3 separate regions of the Homo sapiens genome follow, and regions 1 and 2 are each linked to region 3. The links come from fine-mapping of genetic effects on gene expression. A gene starts in region 3. Each other region holds a variant in brackets. All regions are shown on one strand. Distances are from middle to middle. Region 1 overlaps LINC01991 (long intergenic non-protein coding RNA 1991). Region 2 overlaps LOC105374264 (a long non-coding RNA gene). Region 3 holds the start of BCL6 (BCL6 transcription repressor).

Region 1 (2,762 bases), 220 kb before region 3:
ACAGATGTGAGCCACTGTGCCCTGGCCTGAAGAAGGTCTTTATGGGTACGGCATGACTGCTGGAGAGTTTTGTCACCGCTGCTTAAGGAAGAGCTTCCCAATGTTGGATATGTCTGTAACTTCATAATTTTTTTTTAATTTTGCGCTTTTGTGAATTTCCTCAATTGGCTTTCTTATTGGCCCCCAGGATCACACAGAACACTTCAAACTCCTCTTACGTGTTCTTGATTTCATCATTTAGCTGAAGATGCAGGCCCTGTCTTTCTTTCTGAGTTTTCCTTAGCACCCTCCTTTTAAATTACCTTTTTCATTGGTTAAATGCCATGAAACTTCATCAATTCTAGTTTTAGCTATCACTTGACCCAAAGACAAGAGAGTTGAATCCTGGACCTTAAAGAAAAAGAAAAAAGGAAAAAAAGCTTGTGGGAACCTTATTTACCTCAACTGGGGAAATTTTTTGCTCTTGCGCAAAGGTCAGGTCCCGTGAAACTTGTGAAATAGGTGTTTTTATCTCTTTTCTTTTCCAACTGATCAGATAGATATCTTTCCAGGAATTTGGTGTCAGAAATCAAATTCAATGAGTGGGAAGTTTGACAAGATTCAGGATAGTCTTGCCAAATAGCACAAGAGAGGAGGTAAAGTTAGGTCAGGTCAAGGGGGCAGCAAAAATGAAGTTTATAACAGATATACTGTATATTTGTCATGGGAAAGGGCTTCAGTCAATAGCAATTGATATTAATAAAACATAAAAGAAATGACAATAAACAATCAGGATAACTTTGAAACAACTTCTTTTTATGTAGGTAACATTAAAGAAAATTAAAGAAAAGGAATCGCTTTATTTTATAAAATAAATGCACTACTATTTGCAAAAAAAAATTTACCTAAAAATGCTGCTACTGAACAAACAAAACTACCCAAAATTAGAGAACAAAAGCATAAAAATTGTTAACAAATAAAAAAACTATATTTTTGAAAAGTCTTAGATGATACACAAAAAATGCAGATTTGTATAAATACACCATCGCCCTGGGATGACCTCTTATCATTGTCTAAGCAAGTTGTAGTGCCACGGTGTGTTTCAGACTATGCTATAGAAAATCTTTAGCACTCACCTTAAAAGTTTAAAGTAGAAAGAACAACCTTTAACAGGATCATAGAAAATGTTCCATCAGATCAAAACAAACAAGCAAACAAACTGAAGCAGGTCATTTTTCTCTTTTTGGCACTGTGCAGGACCATATGCTTCCAGAGATGGGAATTTAAAAATAGCCTGTCACACAGCTCACATTGTAATGCTGGGACATGATGCGGGTGGGAAAGATTGCCTCACACTTAATAATAGTGACACTTCACATTTACACCAACCTCTTTGCAGAGTAACCAAGAGTATTTCTCAGTTCTTTTTTTCCTTTAAAAATAATATGATCTTCTTGATACCCTGTAAGTGGAACAGGAGGGAGTACAATTCTTCCCACCTTACAGAGAAGGCGATTGAGGCCTCCAAAGGTAAAGTGACTCACTCAGGATTACAGAGTTACCCAGGGATCA[G/A]CACTGTGCTGTTCAAAATACACCAGGCTGCCAACTGCAGCAATATCCTGGGCCTGTGAGAACCGTGGGTTCATAGGATGTTGCACAAAAAAGAGAGAAATTTGCTTCCCATTGCCTCTGTTTTGAAATGTACTGCCTTTCATCTTGAGCATTTCATAAGTTTCTAATTTTAAGGCAAATTGCTTATAAGCCATGGTGACCTATATTAGCTGACATTTGAAATCAATCTCACACCAGTAAATGCCTTAGATTTGCATTTGGTACCCCCTTGCCGAGTCATAATAACAATGTAATTTCTCACATCTCCATAATTCTTTACACTTGAAAATGGTTGTACATTCACCATCTCATCAGATCTGTATAAGCAGCTATAATTTAAGCCAGGCCAGAGTTATGATGAGAGGGAACAGAGGCTCAGGATATGAAAAAAACTTTCTCATTTGGTAAAAGCCACAGAAACTGATGAAACCCAGGTCTTCTCTCTGCATGTGTAGGGTATTTTCCTGCCAGCCACACAGCCTTTTAGGTCTAAATAAAGTGTTGAGACTCCACTGCAAGTGTGTGTGCGCTCAGGAGTGACTCTTCTACCCAGTTTGGTGCCCAGCACTCAGTTCCTAATTGGCTGCAAAACCCTGAAGGGGGATTCTAGATGTGGCGGGCACCAGGTGAAGTCAGTAGTGAGCTTCCTTTTTGGAGGGAAGGAAAATTCTTGGCATACCGATGGGTCCAGGCAGACACTTTGGATATGTGTGGAGCCCAGTGATGTTGTGTTACTGGGTAGCCTTAAACCTTATTCCAACCTTGACTCCTTCTACTCTGTGCCATAAACTCTCTCCTTCCAATACCCCCCATTCCTCTGCTGCCTTCCCCTTTATCGTACCTGGCAAAACTGCAATCCTGGTGAAATGTATATCCTCTAATTCCTCCTTTGCTTGCATCCAAACAGTGGAATGTTGTTAAGAACATTGTAAACCATGCTGATCAGTTCACTTTAAATTTGTGATCACAAACCTGAAACGGACCGTGCCAGAGGATCCTATGATACATTTAGCAAATTCACTTTTTGGTTTCTGGGTCAACTCTTTCAAACCTTTAGCTCCCTACTTGAATATCCACTATGCTCTACACATCCCATGCCCTGGGATTATGACCTTCCTTTTTGCTATCAGAGGAGAGTTATTGCATTTTTCCTTAACCCACCTGCATCTGTG
Region 2 (2,762 bases), 110 kb before region 3:
TTGCACTCCTATCCATTGGAGTGTATCCAGGGCCAAAAGAGGACAAAGTATGATTTGATTGGAAGTGAGAGTAAATGGGCACAACAAGAAGTATCACTGCATATGAAAAATAATTTGAGAGACCCTTGTCTGCCTTAGTTCATATAAATTATTGATATTAACCATAATAAAATATCCATGTTTACTTTCATATTAAAAGAGCATCTGGCATAGAGCATTGCTCAATACTTATTGGTTGAGGAAGTGAATTCATTTTTGAATGAAAAATAATGCCTTAAAGTGTTTGCCACCAGGTAAAATTGATGTTCTAGGAAGATTCATCATACTTAACTGTGGCCTTCGGTACCTTGCTGCACAACCCCTCACTCCTACCCTGAAGAGTGTGAACCCCACAGAGATTCATTCTTTTATTGTGCAGATGACAGATCTAGACTGGCAGATGTAAAGTTGTAAATGCTGAGTTGGTCTAAAACCCAGGTCTCCTGAGTCTCAGCCCAGGACCATACCACTGAACCACACTGCTTTGTCCTTAGGTTTCCAGACCTTCGGGCTTTCAGCTTCTCTGTATCATCTGCTTTTTTGGTTCCTCCATACACAATACTTGGAGGTTAGAATTGAAGAGCTTTCTGTGCTTTGCTGGGGCCGTGTTTCACAATTTTGACAAATATTCAGCTTGCCCATGTTAGTTTTCAGAATCCTCAGCGTTAACTGTTTGAAGAATATGGTTTGTGAAGGACTTTATGACTGTTTTGATTATTTCTTCCGTGTATATCTCCAAACTATTTGAGTAAAAACATTTTTGTGCTTGGGAGAAAAATACTAAGCCTTGCCTTGTTTCTAAGGAGAGGAAACCGAGGTCCAGGGTGAAGAAATTTTCTCAGTTAGATGTAGTCCCTGGAATGACAGCCTGAGTTCCTGTATTTCATCCTTTTTAGGGACCTATAGCACACTAGTTTTCTGGCTTGGACACAATCTTCCCTGAAACCCAATCTGGGAAACCTTCCAAGCAGAGACACCCAATTTTGCCAACCTTGCTGCCACCTTCCCCAAGATACTCATTTCCCAGCATACCAAACGTTTCCTCTTTCTTCCTTCCCCCACCCCTCTCCTCCTTCCCCTAGATCTCTTCCTCTGCCCAACATTTCCCTGGCTGTCAGAACTTGTTTCTTGTCAATTGCTTCTCCCTAAGCCTAGATACACCCAATGTGGTGTCCTTGACAAAACACTGTGTGGGGGTGATGCAACAGCCCAAGGTGTCAAAATAATTAGGTAATTAAAGCAGGGGAAGGTCAGGGTTTCTTCTGTTTGGAAAGACAAATACACACACAAAGAGAAAAGCAGAACAAGGAAGCCAATTTCACATCTCCTTTGTTTCTCCCTTGCTCCTTGACCCAATGTGAAAGCTTAGTGCCTATGATCAATTCTCTCAGAGTACTGGAATAAGAACCCACCTGACCTAGTATGCTTGGCAAGTTTGAACACCAAGGAATAGAACGTTTAAAGGTTTCAACACACCCTTGTTGTTGTCTTGCCTGTTTGTTTTCACACCAGCCCCACCCTGAGCTTCTACTGGTGCAATGGCCCCAGATGGTGGCTCAATGCCATGGATGGGATATTGCTCAAAGGAGTCTGTGG[G/T]TACGAAAGGCGGAGTCTCCTCCCAGGAAACCAAGCCTCAAGGTCATCTTCTCTTGGCTTTTATTTGTTTATTCGCTCAACATTCCACAGTTATTAAGAGCCTGCTATGTTTTAGGGATTGTGCTTGGAACATAGGATGGGGCTGAGAGGAAGCAGAGAGCAATATGAAATAGCCCCTGTCTGTCCGGGAGGAGCTTACTGTCTAGTGAGAAAGTGGCCATATGGGCAAATATCATAGTTTTGCTGGGATGACAAGTCTCTAACTGAGGTCCGAACAAAGTTCTAGAGATCTCAGAGAAGGAAGTGACCAACTCCCTGGAGGACTCTAGGAACAAGTGACAAAGGAGGTGACATTTGAATTATAACTTTAAGGATGAGTGAGGTTTCTCCAGACAAGAGGAGCAAAGAGGTCATTCTAGGCAGAGGAAGAGCATATTCAAAGGCAGGAAGGATGAAAGAGCATATTGCTTTCTGAGAATGTGGAGTTCATTGATACTAAAATTGGGGCTATGCTGGGGTAGGTGGGAATGAAGAGATATGGCTGAATATGTTGATAGGGGCAAAATCAAGGGTGTCCTTAACAAGATGCCTGGAATATGGCCTGCCCTGATGGCATCAGGGCACCACTGGAGATTCTGGGGCACAGGAGATGAGAGTAAATCTATAAGGCAGTGGCGGCAGCAACACTTCCTCCAGTTGTCTTCCTGCTGGGGACACACTCTCAGGTCTCCTCTCCTCAACCATCAGTTCTACTTTTCTCAGCCATTAAATAAGGTAGCTTTCAGCATCAGCCTCTTCCCAGGAAGAGCACACACTCAGATGACTGACTCCGGGGACCCAGAGACTCTCCCACCCACAGCTCAGCCATCCAAGTGAAGTGGAACTGTAGAGTGGTTACACAAAGGGCTTTGGCTTCAGAGTCCCGGTTTTGACTGGCTTCAGACACCCCTGGTTTGAACCTTGCCTCTGCCTGTTATCAGCAATGTTATATTGAGCCAGTGACTGAACTCCTCCAAAGCCTCAGTTTGCCTTTGTAAAATGAGATTGCAGGGTAATCATGCCTTCCTTATTGGGTTTTCTTGGGGAGGTAAATCAAGGGCAACACCATGCAAGTCACCAGTTAGCAT
Region 3 (2,762 bases):
ATTTCTCTGAAGTGCAGGAGAGACACACTTCAGCAAAAGTCCAAGGGGGAAAAAGAAAATTGCACCAAAGGAAAAAAAAAAAAAAAAAGTGGGGGCTGGGATTGTTACATATGGCCAAAAATTTAAGCTTCTTTCAATAGTATTAGTATTGAAATAATACATCTTTAAAACGCTTGAGGGATTAGATAGGGAAAGAAAAGGCACGTACAAAAAAATCCAACCGATGCCGATCCTGTGATTTACGTAACACCACAAACTTGCAAAAGGCAAAAAATCAGAAGCAAAAATCCATAAACCATCAAAATACAGAAACCAAAAATCCCAAGCCACCACACCAGAAAGAAAAAAACCCAGAACAACAGCAAAAACCCCTGTCCTAAATAAAAATAAAGCAAATGAACCCACCGAAAACTGCTTGGCAAATATTTTTCTCGTGGTGCCTAATATTCTAGTTGGAAAGAGCTGTGATGTTTATTTTATTTTATTTTTCTCTTACTCGCCTCTCTAACCCTACTATATATATAACATACTTTTCCCAGTGGTTCAAACCTCTCGCTCCCTTTTGTGCATTTAGCTCGATCTGCTGAGTTTATGGGTAAGAAAGAAGGAATTAGCCCCAGACCCCGGGAAAGCAAAGCGCACTCCCCCTCTTATGTCACCGAATAGCAAATTAGTTCTCAGAATTCCAGAGGCCGAGCTTTGCTACAGCGAAGGCGCCGACGTCACAGAGGAGGAGCCCACGTGATGGTGGCGGAGCAGGCCATACCATCGTCTTGGGCCCGGGGAGGGAGAGCCACCTTCAGGCCCCTCGAGCCTCGAACCGGAACCTCCAAATCCGAGACGCTCTGCTTATGAGGACCTCGAAATATGCCGGCCAGTGAAAAAATCTTGTGGCTTTGAGGGCTTTTGGTTGGCCAGGGGCAGTAAAAATCTCGGAGAGCTGACACCAAGTCCTCCCCTGCCACGTAGCAGTGGTAAAGTCCGAAGCTCAAATTCCGAGAATTGAGCTCTGTTGATTCTTAGAACTGGGGTTCTTAGAAGTGGTGATGCAAGAAGTTTCTAGGAAAGGCCGGACACCAGGTGATTATTGCTGTTGCTGCCGCCGCTGCTGCTGCTACTGCCGCCGCCGCCGCTGTTGCCGCTGGTGCCGCTGCCGCCGCCGCTGCTCATGATCATTATTTTACCTTTTAATTCTTTTTTTTTCCGCTCTTGCCAAATGCTTTGGCTCCAAGTTTTCTATGTGTATCTATTGATATAAATGTATATATTTATTTATTCTAGCTGTCAGGTGTTAAAATAAATGCCGAAGATTAGTCCCACGTCTCTCCCACCATAGGATATAGATTGTTATGTATTTATTATTATTATTGTTGTCTTTGAGTGAATCGGCCGGTTTGGGGAGGCTTTTGCCACCCTCCCTTGTGTTGTTTTGGTTTTTGGAAAGGAGGTGGAGGAGAGGAAGGAGGGGAATTAGGGGGCGGCCGGAGCAGAGAGGACGAGACAGTGCTTGGGGGGTGATTCGGGCTAGTCTGGGGGCTGTCTGGCCCCAGACCGCGGAGAGGACGCGCGCTCGCGCTCTCGCTCTTTCTGCTGCTGCTTGCGTACGGCTTGTGATCTCTCTGGATTCGTGCGGCTGTGTTTTTTCCCTCTTTTCTCGCTTGCAAACTGCTTTCCTTGCTCCGTCGCTCCTGGCCTCCGCTTCCCTCCCTCCTCTTTTTCCTCGCCTCTTCTTCCTTCCCTTCCCCTGTCCTTCTGGGTAACTCCGGGAGGCAAAAAGGGAGGCTGCCCGCTCGCTCGCCCCGCTGGCTCTCTTCCATCGGCCTCGGTCTTTTAGATTCCCTGCCTTCGAGCCGAACCGAGATTTGGAAGGAAAAAATGCAAGCGAACTCTTTGGGTTTTTGTTTTTGTTTTTTTGGTCATAAATCCAGATGAGATGAAGTATCGTGTCTACTATTTCCTTTCAGAGCCGTGATCTTCCTAATGAGAGCCGAGTGTTTTGGTGTTCCCTGCCCCTGTGTTTTGGGGAGCTTGGGGGCGGGGATGTTGAACACTTTGAAAATTATTCTTTCTTGGTTGTAGTCGAGGGAGTCGGGAACCTCCGCGCGCTCTCCCTGCTCATCCCGAGGAGAGAGACTGATGGCGGGACAGGGCTTCTTGGGGTGGGTGGGAAAGGGGTGCGCACTGCACCTGCGATGCCTTTCAGTGTGCGGGGGGACTCAGGGAACCTCGACAGGACAGCCTGGGAGAACGAGAAAGGTGGCGGGATTTCTGGCCGCTGCGGTGTTTGTATTTTGGGCGCTGCGTGACTCTGTGTTGGCTCCCAATGGCTGTTGCCTCCCTTTCCTAAATTTTATTTTATTTTTTCCCATGGTGCAAGCTCTGTAAAAAGGGAACTGCGGGCCTGAGCGTAGTGGACGCCAGGCTTCAGATTCCCGAGGTCCTTACCTTGGGCGAGGAGAAAGACGAACAGAGCCCCAGCCCGCGTTCCTTATGTGCAAGACTCAGGAGGAGAGAAGGGCACTTTGTGGCCGTGGCTGAGGGGACCCGGCGCGGGAGGAGCGGGCGCGGGCGCGAAAGGGAGATCTTTGTGAGTGATTTTGCAAAAATAGATTGCGAGGTTGGTTGGATTTGCAACCTGTGGCTCTCCTCGAGGGAGTAAGAATGGGGGAAGGCGCGGCGGCGGCGGCCCGGGGAGGGAGTGGGTAGAGTTGGAGCCTCAGAAATCGGCTGAGCTCCGGGGGCGGGCGGGGAGAAAGGGCGGG

What was found.
Region 1: its variant is fine-mapped to the expression of BCL6 in whole blood (TOPMed, PIP above 0.99).
Region 2: its variant is fine-mapped to the expression of BCL6 in whole blood (TOPMed, PIP above 0.99).

The regions. Positions count from the first base shown.
Region 1 is chr3:187,962,714-187,965,475 of GRCh38, reverse strand. The region is part of intron 2 of LINC01991 (long intergenic non-protein coding RNA 1991); the gene reads left to right. Among named protein-coding and RNA genes, the nearest start is that of LINC01991, 12 kb to the left of the region's middle. The variant G/A (reference allele first, on the strand shown) is at 1,552.
Region 2 is chr3:187,849,245-187,852,006 of GRCh38, reverse strand. The region is part of intron 2 of LOC105374264 (a long non-coding RNA gene); the gene reads left to right. Among named protein-coding and RNA genes, the nearest start is that of BCL6, 110 kb to the right of the region's middle. The variant G/T (reference allele first, on the strand shown) is at 1,636.
Region 3 is chr3:187,743,728-187,746,489 of GRCh38, reverse strand. BCL6 (BCL6 transcription repressor) reads left to right here and starts at 1,022. Exons shown (of 10, transcript NM_001706.5): 1 at 1,022-1,080. It overlaps BCL6-AS1 (BCL6 antisense RNA 1), which reads right to left. Exons shown (of 2, transcript NR_173091.1): 1 at 2,446-2,762; 2 at 464-1,246. RefSeq lists an enhancer at 1,384-1,909.